Regions from separate parts of the Homo sapiens genome. Here region 1 is linked to region 2. Evidence: fine-mapped expression QTL. A gene starts in region 2. The other region holds a variant in brackets. All regions are shown on one strand. Distances are between the middles of the regions.

Region 1 (5,370 bases), 28 kb before region 2:
AAACATAACAAGCATCACCTTTGCTCCAGTTCCTCATCCCCATCTGAGACCACCTCAGCCTGTACCTTATTGTCCATATCACTATCAGCATTTTGGGCAAAGCCATTCAACAAGTATCTGGGAAGTTCCAAAATTTCCCACATACTCCTGTCTTCTGAGCCCTCCAAACTGTTCCAACCTCTGCCTGTTACCCAGTTCCAAAGTTGCTTCCACATTTTCAGGTATATTTTTGGCAACACCCCACTCTAATGGTACCAATTTACTGTATTAGTCCATATTAGTACTCAGCTCAAGTGCAAAATTTAAGGGTGGAGGGGCACCAAAAACTCAATAATCAAGACAAATTCTCTTTTATTGAGGTAAAGTTCACATAAAAGTAACCATTTATGGGAGGCTGAGGTGGGAGGATTGCTGGAGCCAGGAGTTCAAGGCTTCAGTGACTTATCATCCCTATCCCCTCAGTCCCTGGTCACCACCAATCTTCTTTCTGTCTCTATGTTTGCGTATTCTGGACATGCATGTAAATGCACTAATACAAGTGTTACCTTTTGTGTCTGCCTCTTCCTTCAGTATGAATGAACCTTGAAAACGCTGTAGGAAAGGTGTGTCTTCTTTGGAGAACTGTCACCTCAAATTCTTTGCCCACTTTAAATTTGGGCTGTTTGTCATTTCGCTGTTGAGTTGTAAGAATTCTTTTTTTTTGAGACAGAGTCTGGCTCTGTTGCCCAGGTTGGAGTGCAGTGGCACAATCTTGGCTTACTCCAACCTCCACTTCCCGGGTTCAAGCGATTCTCCTGCCTCAGCCACCCAAGTAGTTGGGATTACAGGCATGCACCACCACGCCTGGCTATTTTTGTACTTTTAATAGAGATAAGGTTTCACCATGTTGGCCAGGCTGGTCTTGAACTCCTGACCTCAGGTGATCCACCTGACTCAGCCTCCCAAAGGGCTGGGATTACAGACATGAGCTGCTGTGCCCGGCCAAGATTTCTTTATGTATTCTGGATTCTAGACTCTTACCCAATATATGATTTACAAATGTTTTTTCCCATTGTGTTAATCTTTTCAGTTTCCTGAGTAGTGTCCTTTGATTCAGAAAAGTTTTTAATTTTGACGAAGTCCAACTTATCTATTTTGTTGTTGTTGCTTGTCCTTTTGGTGTTACATCTAAGAATCCATTGCTAAATCCAAGGCCATGAAGATTTACTTCTGTTTTCTTCTAAGAGTTTTATCTTTACAGCTCTCACATAAAACAAATAATACTTCAGTGCAATATTTCAAAAATCAAAACTAATGCAAAAAGTCCATGATGAACAAAATAGCATTTTAAATAAAGGCCAGATCTGCCCGTGCACTTGGTTCTACGCCCTTGATTCGTGCACCCTGGGGCGGGGGCAAATTAAACTAGGGGAGCCCATTGGACTGGGGCTGGTGTGTGGCTGATGGCAGAGTTCAGGCCGGGCCAGACCGGGCCAGTCCAGAGGGAGAAGCCGCTACTGCAGGAGACAGAGCGATTTTTCCGCTGCAAATCCTTGAGAAGGGAGGATGGAGGCGGCGGGACGACCCAGTGAAGCCGGCCCCGAACGCCAAGTGAGTGTGTGCCGTGCGCGCGCGGGTAGCTGCCGACCGCAACGACATAAACTTGAAAGTGACCGCTGTCCCGGAGCTCCCTGCTCCCAAGGGACCCGTCGCGTTGCAGAGTTGTCCGGTCGGGCCTCTGGGGCGGGCCCGGATCCTGGACCAGGGCCAGTCTGTCCGAAACCCACCAGTGAGCGAGCGGGAGAGCGCGGCCGCCCCGCCCCGCCCCTTTCCGCGACCGCCCCGCCCACTCCCAGGAAGGCCCGGGTGCCCAGAGCTCGCGGTGGACTCCGACCCGGCGCAACATGGCCGCAGCCTCGCCTCTGCGCGACTGCCAGGTACACGGAGGCTGCCCCCAACCAGGTCCCCCTCGGGCCCCGGGTCCTGGGGGTGGCCCGGTGCTGGCGGAATAACGGGAGACATGGCCCGGGCGCGGGGCGTGGGGTGAGCCCTGGGCGCACGGGCGCGTCCGCGGCAACGCCTGGAAGGGACCCGAGGCCCTTCTTGTAGAGTCCCCACCGAGGGAAATAAGGGACGCCTGTCAGGGTACTCGGGAGACCCCAAGACCTCCTAAAAAACGTAGCTCACTGGGCATGGCTGGGGACGCAGGGAAGCCCGCAAAGGTAAGGGGCTCCTTGGAACCGGCCCAGGACTGGGAGCCTGAGCCCATTTTACAGATGAGGAAGGTGGAGGTCAGAGGGGCCAGGAGACGTGTGTGTGTTGAAGTTTGAAGGGCTCCTGGAGAGAAGGCACTGCTATTCCCTTCTTGCCGTCTGTAGGCCTGGAAGGATGCGAGGCTCCCGCTCTCCACCACAAGCAACGAAGCCTGCAAGCTGTTCGATGCCACGCTGACCCAGGTATGCCTGCCGAGAGAGGCCGCGGCCCCTTCTGTGGAGGTCTAGGGGAAGGTTTTTTAATTGGGGAAAGCTGTTTTTTTGTTTTGTTTTGTTTTGTTTTGTTTTGTTTTTGAGGCGGAGTCTCGCTCTGTCGCCCAGGCTGGAGTGCA[G/A]TGGCGCTATTTCGGCTCACTGCAAGCTTTGCCTCCCGGGTTCACGCCATTCTCGTCCCTCAGCCTCCCGAGTAGCTGGGACTACAGGCGCCCGCCACTGCCCTCGACTAATTTTTTTTGTATTTTTTAGTAGAGACGGGGTTTCACCGTGTTAGCCAGGATGGTCTCGATCTCCTGACCTCGTGATCCGCCCGCCTCGGCCTCCCAAAGTGCTGGGATTACAGGCGTGAGCCACCGCGCCCGGCCATGGGGAAAGCTTTTTAAATTGCGCCATGACCTTAGCAATAGATGGCAGCACATCTGTGCACTTTGTACTGGAGGACGTGGGAGGGTGGGGACATATCTCTGCCCCCCCCCCACAGCGTCCTAAAAGGGCCTCTGCACTCTCCCTTCTTCCCCAGGACTCTGAGTGGTGGGTGGACAGCGGTGGGTGCAGTGGGGATGTTTTTTGAGGATGCTGGCCTCCCCGGGCCTCCCATTGTGGCCTGCTGAGGGTCTGATGCAGGGCTCGGCTGCTTAGGACGTGGGATCCTGTCCTGGGATGAATCTGTGAGTATACTGCCTTCACCTAGGCTGTGCCAAGACCTTCTGCCACATTACCAGTCATTTCTCTACCAATGAAGGGTCCTATAGTTTTAGAACTAGGAGAAGTCTCAGAAGTAAGATCCAACTAGCTTCCTTGACAAGTGGGGAAACTGAGGCTCAGAGTTGAACCTACTTGACTTGAAGGTTGTCCATGAATTACAGGCAGAACCAGGATGAACCTGGGCCTAACTGCACTGATAGAAACCTAAGCTGACCTTGGCGTGGGTGGTGAGGCCCCTGCATACTGACTTCATCCACATAACAGGAGGACTCAGGTAGCTCTTAGAAGCCTACGGGCTGAACAAGAGAGGACTGATGGAATGCTGTGAGCTGCGCCATGGGTGCCTCTCCTGTTCCCAGCCTGCCCTGCCAAGGGACTCTGCTGTGGGCATCTGAGTTGTTTGTTTATTTTGTGTTTGACCTGGCTCACTTGCCCTTCCTGTATCTCGCCGGCCTCTGTAGAGTACTCGATTTGTTTTTTGTTTGAGACGGAGTCTTGCCCTGTCACCCAGGCTGGAGTGCAATGGCGCAGTCTTGACTCACTGCAAACTCTGCCTCTCGGGTTCAAGCGATTGCCCTGCCTCAGCCTCCGAAGTAGCTGGGATTATAGGCACGCACCATCATACCCAGCTGATTTTTTGTATCTTTAGTAGAGACGGGGTTTCACCATGTTGGTCAGGATGGTCACAAACTCCTGACCTTGTGATTCCCCTGCCTTGGCCTCTCAAAGTGCTGGGATTACAGGCGTGAGCCACTGTGCCCGGCCCCTAGTACTCAGTTTGTTACACACCACATCCCCAATCAGTGGCAGCTCATCCTCCCAGCCTGGGTATATTTTGTCCCGTGTATTGGTGTCTCTGTGCTGTCCTGTGTTAGAACTTGGCTTCTTTAAATCTCTGTGCCAACCCTCCTGTATCTTGTCAAAATGCTTGCGTAGCTTATAGTCTCAGCTATTTGGGAGGCTGAGGCAGGGGGATTGCTTGAGCCTGGGCGGTTGAGACTGAAGTGAGCTGTGATTGTGCCACTGTACTCCATCCTGGGCAACAGAGCAAACCCTGTCTTAAAAAAAAAATACACGTACTAATTCTGTGTAGATGTAGGTTAGACAGCTGAAAGGGCATATTTTAAAATCTAATGTGTGATTATAGGTCTAGGACTTTTTTTAAAACAGGCATTTGAGTAAAGGACCAGGTACAAATACAGCAAATTGTTAAAAATGATGATGCGCTGGGCGCGGTGACTCACGCCTGTAATCCCAGCACTTTGGGAGGCTGAGGCAGGTGGATCATCTGAGGTCAGGAGTTCAACACCAGCCTGGCCAACATGGTGAAACCCTGTCTCTACTAAAAATATAAAAAAATTAGCCGGGCATGGTGGCATGGGCCTGTAATCCCAGCTACTCGGGAGGCTGAGGCAGAGGAATTCTTGAACCAGGGAGGTGGAGGTTGTAGTGAGCTGAGATAGTGCCACTGCCTTCCAGCCTGGGTGACAGGGCAAGACTCCATCTCAAAAAAGAAAAAAAAAAAATTAGCCGGGCGCAGTGGTGCACACCTGTAATCCCAGCTACTAAGGAGGGATTCTCCTACCAAGGCAGGAGAATTGCTTGAAACCTGGAGGCAGAGGTTGCAGTGAGCCAAGATCGTGCCATTGCACTCCAGCCTGGGTGACAGGGCAAGATTCTGTCTCAATTAAAAAAAAAATGATAAAATGAGCTTTGGGTAAGTTTTATCTTTCAGCTTTTGTGTCTTTCTAACTCTCTAAAATAAATGTTTTCTGTGAATATTTTTAAAACGAATGAATAAGAAGCAGGAATATTCCTATCGTGACCAACTTCAGGGCTCCTCTTAGGGCAGAAGAAGCCGATGTGGAGCAGGTCACCTGTCAGGAGGAACCTGCCTTTTCTTTCTTTTCTTTTTTCTTTTTTTTCTTTTTTGAGACAGAGTCTCACTCTGTCGCCCAGGCTGGAGTGCAGTGGCGCCTGGGTTCACGCCATTCTCCTGCCTCAGCCTCCCGAGTAGCTGGGATTACAGGCGCCCACCACCACACCCGGCTGATTTTTTGTATCTTTAGTAGAGACGGGGGTTTCACCGTGTTAGCCAGGATGGTCTCGATCTCCTGACCTCATGATCCGCCCACCTCGGCCTCCCAAAGTGCTGGGCTTACAGGCATGAGCCACCACACCTGGCCTTTTTTTTTCCTTT
Region 2 (5,370 bases):
TGGATCCCCTGATGTCAGGAGTTCGAGATCAGCCTGGCCAACATGGTGAAACCCTGTGTCTACTGAAAATACAAAAATTAGCTGAGCATGGTGGCACACGTCTGTAATCCCAGCTACTCGGGAGGCTGAGGCAGGAGAATCACTTGAACCTGGGAGGCAGTGATTGCAGTGAGCCAAGATCGTGCCATTGCACTGCAGTCTGGGCAACAGAGCGAGACTCCCATCTCAAGGGAAAAAAAAAAAAAAGTAGGTGGGGCATCTAGTCAAGAAAATGGGAGGTCGGGCGCAGTGGCTCACGTCTGTAATCCCAGCACTTTGGGAGGCTGAGGCAGGTAGATCACGAGGTCAGGAGATCAAGACCATCCTGGCTAACACGGTGAAACCCCATCTCTATTAAAAATACAAAAAATTAGCCGGGCATGGTGGTGGGCGCCTGTAGTCCCAGCTACTCGGGAGGCTGAGGCAGGAGAATGGCGTGAACCCGGGAGGCAGAGCTTGCAGTGAGCGGAGATCGCGCCACTGCACTCCAGCCTGGGCGACAAAGCAAGACTCCGTCTCAAAAAAAAAAAAAAAGAAAGAAAGAAAAGGGGTAATTATAGTAGTATTTCCAGAGAGGCGCCTTCTCTACCCAAGAACTAGGGACACATCCTAAGGGGAGCCTCCTTCCCCTCTCCTGGTTCCAAGCAAGAAGACATGACTTGGCTGTGCAATTGGGAACCCTGGTCCCTCCTCCAGGAAGCCTTCTACCCGCCAACCCCCACTGCAGGCTGGTGAGGGTGCTGCCTCTGTGCCCCTCAGCCCTTGGCACTTGCCCTTGCTCTTGCACCCCTGCCATGACCTCTCCAGGTCAGGGACAGCATCTGTCCCCAGCATCACCTGGCACATGGCCTGCACTGAGTAGCTGTCAGTGAAAGTTGGTGAATGAAGGCATAAATAAATGAAGTCAAACTCTGTATTAGGCCTTCTTGCATTGCTATGAAGAAATACCTGACGCTAGGTAATTTATAAAGAGGTTTAATTGGCTCACAGTTCTGCAGGCTTTTCAGGAAGTATGGTGCTGGCATCTGCTTCTGGTGCAACCTCAGGAAGCTTAAGATCATGACATAAGGTGATGGGGAGCCAGTATATCACATAGTGAGAGCAGGAGTAAGAGAGAAGGGGAGGTCTTAGACTCTTAAATAACCAGATCTTGTGTGAACTAAGCAAGAACTCATCACCAAGGGGATGGTGCTGAACCATTCATAAGGGATCTGCCCTCACGACCCAATTACTTCCCACCAGGCCCCACTTCCAACATTGGGATCACATTTCAACATGAGATTTTGAGGGGACACACATCCAAACTACAGCAAATCCTATTGGGGGCAGAAATGAATCTGCCATACATAGGCCACACCTACTATGTGCTGACATGATACAGGGAGAGGAGTATCAGGAATGACTGTTGGGGATCCCTCTGCCATTCTCCCATGAGCAGACATCCCCAGGATGAGCTGAGGGGAATGCAATGAGCAGGCCAAACTCTTTCCAAGCTGTTTGACCACACCCACCTACCCCAGCACTCTCAGCCCCTGCCTGGTGCCCTGTGCTGAGCTGGGTGAGGCTGGGGAGACTGGTGAGTGAGGGCTGCCCTGCCCTTTTTGAGCCCCCAGTCTTCTGGTGAAGGAACATAGCAACATGGAGTGATTGGTATGGATGATGCAAAACCAGGGACATGGGACCCAGAAGTGCCCGAGCCAGCCTGGAAGGCCTCTGCCCTGGGCCCCGGGTGGCTGTTTGCTGCACAGCTCTCCCCACAGCCTGCCCCAAATAAACAGCTTATCTTCGTCCCTGAAAATGGTGCTCTCGAGTTCCATCCTTTTCAGAGCGGGTCCTCCCAGACTCCTCTTCCTGCATCCTCCTCCATCCCGCTTAGTGACACTTTGCCGTGGGTGGAGCCCCTCATTTGATCCTCAAGCCCCCGAGGTGGGTATTATACCTCGTTCGCAGGCAAAGGCTCAAGCGAGGTCAGTCTTAAGTTGCTGCCCACTGACCCGTCTACCAGTCCTGTCCTTGCGTCTCCATGGCTCAGGTCAGGGTTATCCTATCTGCTTCCCACCTCTCTCCAACACATGCACTCCCCAAGGCAGGCTCCATCACCGGGCCCCAGCCCCTGGCTCTCTCCTCCAACGCAGCTCCCCAGCCGGCCTGTAAAACCGAGGACAGGCTCCCGCCACGCCCTCGGCGGTCCTCAGGCCTTGGCGGTTGGGGAAGCCCGCCAAGGGCGACGGTTCCCCTCCAGCCCCACAGGCTGTGCAGCTCCGGCAATGAGTCTCCCTCAGGTCTCTGGGTCAGCCGGCGCCCCAGTGCGTGCCTCGGGGGCAGGGATCCCGGCTTTTCACTACTGTTAGTAACAGCTCGCGCGCGCTGCTTCACAGCAGGTGGGTGAGCCTACTTTTAGTCTTCCCATCGACACCCTTAGATGGCAGTTTTAACTTTCTCCCTACACACAAGGAGCTGCTATACATGGTTCCGGCTTGACGCGGATACCTAGTGACACTTGGCGGCCAGGCCGGGCAGACTTCCGGGTGGGTGATCCCTGGCGCTGTGCGGAGCCATTCGCTGCGCTGAAGCAGTGCGCATGCGCACTGGACGCTTCTTACCAGCGTCCTGACTACAATACCCAGGACGCACCCAGCCCGCCGCCTCTCGGAGCCCTTTTCAAACCGACCAATCGGCAACCCGCGTCTCCCGGCGCCGCGTTTAAATCCGTGCCGGAGGCGCGTCCTGCATCGTCTGCCGCTTTGGGTAAGGTGGGGTCAGGGTCGGGGGCGAGGCTTGCCCGGTGGGCCCGGTGCGGCGCGGTGCCCGCCGTTTTCGGGACGGGGAGGGGCCGCGCCCCGCCAGGAGCCGGGCCTGGGCTCGAGCAGGGGTCACTGAGGCCCCTCGCGCCGTGGTCGGGGATGCCGGGAGGTCTAGGGCTGCCCCCCAGGCAAACAGAGCCCCCAACACTCTGGCCCAGAAGCCGAGAATTCCGTTATCTCGTCTGATGGCGTTCGGGCTGACTCCCGGCCTGGCGGCACTCGGGCCCTGGGGTCCCCTGGGATGCGATCATTTCAGAGCGGCCCCCGCGCCGCCTCTCCCAGACCTGGCCGCGGCCTTCAGCTCTCTCTGCCTCTGTGAGCCGAGGGCTGAAGGAAGCCGGAGCCCTGGGCCCTGACACGTACTCACTTTCTGGCCCCGTTCCACCCTGCAGTGACTTCTGACAGCTCTCTCCATGGAAGGAGGCGGCGGCCGCGATGAGCCTTCAGCCTGCCGGGCAGGGGACGTGAACATGGATGACCCTAAGAAGGAAGGCAAGTCCTTGCTGCTGCGGCGCTGTTGTTGTTCAGGATGTTCAGTAGAGATGGAGGGTGATTTAATGTTTCCCTGAGAAATTCTTTCTCAAGTGCTCGACTTGTACTCTGCACCTGTGAAACACATGACATCTGCCTTCGTTTTCTGGTTTTCTTTCACCTCCTCCCCATTTTAAGTTTCATCACAGCCAGGATTCTCATCCGTTTTATTTACCGCAGTGCTCCCATGCCCTGAACAGCACCTAACACTTTGTGGGCTCTCAAATATTTATTGTATTGAATTCGATGTTTTCTTTTTTGTTTGTCGCTGGTTTCTGTTTGCTAAGACTTATTTAGGATCTTTGAGACCATGTTAATGAGTAAGCCTGGCCCCAAACCCCTTTCTTCTTGTGTCTTTGACTGGTTTGGGTATCAAGGTGAGGGTACAGCTTCACAGAATGAGTTACAGGCCACACCCTCTTTTTCTCTCAAAGCGTTTTTATTTATTTATTTATTTATTTATTGACGGAGTCTCGCTCTCTCACCCAGGCTGGAGTGCAAAGGCGTGATCTGTACTCACTGCAACCTCTCTCTCCTGAGTTGAAGGGATTCTCCTGCCTCAGCCTCCCTAGTAACTGGGATTACAGGCACCCGCTGCCACACCTGGCTCATTTTTGTATTTTTAACAGAGACGGGGTTTTGCCATGTTGCCCAGGCTGGTCTCGAACTCCTGAGCTCAGGCAATCTGCCTGCCTCGGCCTCCCAAAGTGCTAGGATTATAGGTGTGAGCCACCTCACCCAGCCTCACAAAGCATTTTGACATCCCTTGGGTAGTTTTCTCACACTACCCAAGGATCCTTTCTTTTTGAGACCAAGTCTCACTCTGTCTCCCAGGCTGGAGTGCAGTGGCATGATCTTGGCTCACTGCAACCTCTGCCTTTCGGGTTCAAGCGATTCTCCTGCCTCAGCCTCCCGAGTAGCTGGGATTACAGGCACCCGCCACCACACCTGGCTGATTTTTGTATTTTTAGTAGAGATGGGGTTTTACCATGTTGGCCAGGCTGGTCTCAAACTCCTGACCTCAGGTGATCCACCTGCCTAGGCCTCCCAAAGTACTGGGATTACAGGTGTGAACCACCGCGCCTGGCCCCAAGCATCCTCAATGCCTCCATTTTGCAGGAACTGTCCTGGAGACTTTACAAATCAATGTTGCATCTTCATATCTAGCAAGGCGCTTGCCTCTGCACCCCTCTCCTCCTTCCTGTCATGTCCTTCCTTTCAAATATGTCCTTTCCACGTGCATACTGCACCCCCTGCTCCTTCTTGAGGCCTTCCCCACTTCCGTTGACCTGACTTCATTTCCTTACTTTTCCCCTGTCCACTACTGGATCATGCGCATCCACATACAGATAATGTTCCCTTGTCTCACTTGTCGCCACGTCTCCTCCGTTGCCTCTCCATTGCTGTGTTTCTCCTTCCAAGCCAAACTTTGAGAGCTTTCTCACTTGTTATGCCATTTTTTTCCGCCTCTCAATCCCTCCCATTCCGGCTTCTGTCCTTACCACTCCATTCAAGCTGCTTTCATCAGTCGTTGACGACTTCCACATTGCTGAATCTCTTTTCACTTTTCTATCGCCAGTCAGCTTTTCAGTAACATTCGTCCTTCTGGAAACTTCCCTTGCTTGGAGTCCAAGACGCTCTTGGTTTTTTCCTCCTGCCTCTCTGGCTGGTGTATCTTTTCTCTGTCGGGGGCTCCCCCTCTGCTGTCTTCTGAGGCTGATTTCCCCAAGACCTGCTCTGGGACCGCTTTGTGCTTTCGCCCTCAGGGCGGTCAGCATTCCAATAGCTGTGCAGCGTATCTGCTCTCTGCGGCACCCACGTTTTGTCTTGAGCGCAGCCTCTCCTCCGAGCTCTGGGCTTGTATATTCACCTGCCTATTTGGCGTCTTCACATGCACGTCTCATCTCAAACTTGGCATACCCCCTCTGCATCTGCATACCCTGTTCTTTTTGTCTTTCTCATCACCCATTTTATTTCTCCATTTCACCCAGCTGTG

Alleles and levels. Positions count from the first base shown, and alleles are read on the strand shown. Sizes are in standard deviations (SD) of each study's normalised expression.
With allele G in place of A in region 1, the expression in esophagus muscle of the gene that starts at base 2,516 in region 2 is higher (moderate effect, 0.64 SD a copy in GTEx).

What was found.
Region 1: its variant is fine-mapped to the expression of GTSE1-DT in esophagus muscle (GTEx, PIP 0.92).

Annotation. Positions count from the first base shown.
Region 1 is chr22:46,266,157-46,271,526 of GRCh38, forward strand. TTC38 (tetratricopeptide repeat domain 38) reads left to right here and starts at 1,852. Exons shown (of 14, transcript NM_017931.4): 1 at 1,852-1,916; 2 at 2,358-2,435. The coding sequence starts at 1,884. RefSeq lists silencers at 1,749-1,908, 1,919-2,128. The variant G/A (reference allele first, on the strand shown) is at 2,585.
Region 2 is chr22:46,294,145-46,299,514 of GRCh38, forward strand. It overlaps GTSE1-DT (GTSE1 divergent transcript), which reads right to left and starts at 2,516. Exons shown (of 1, transcript NR_024009.1): 1 at 999-2,516. It overlaps GTSE1 (G2 and S-phase expressed 1), which reads left to right and starts at 2,726. Exons shown (of 12, transcript NM_016426.7): 1 at 2,726-2,787; 2 at 3,236-3,335. The coding sequence starts at 3,257. RefSeq lists a silencer at 2,784-2,983 and an enhancer at 3,134-3,243.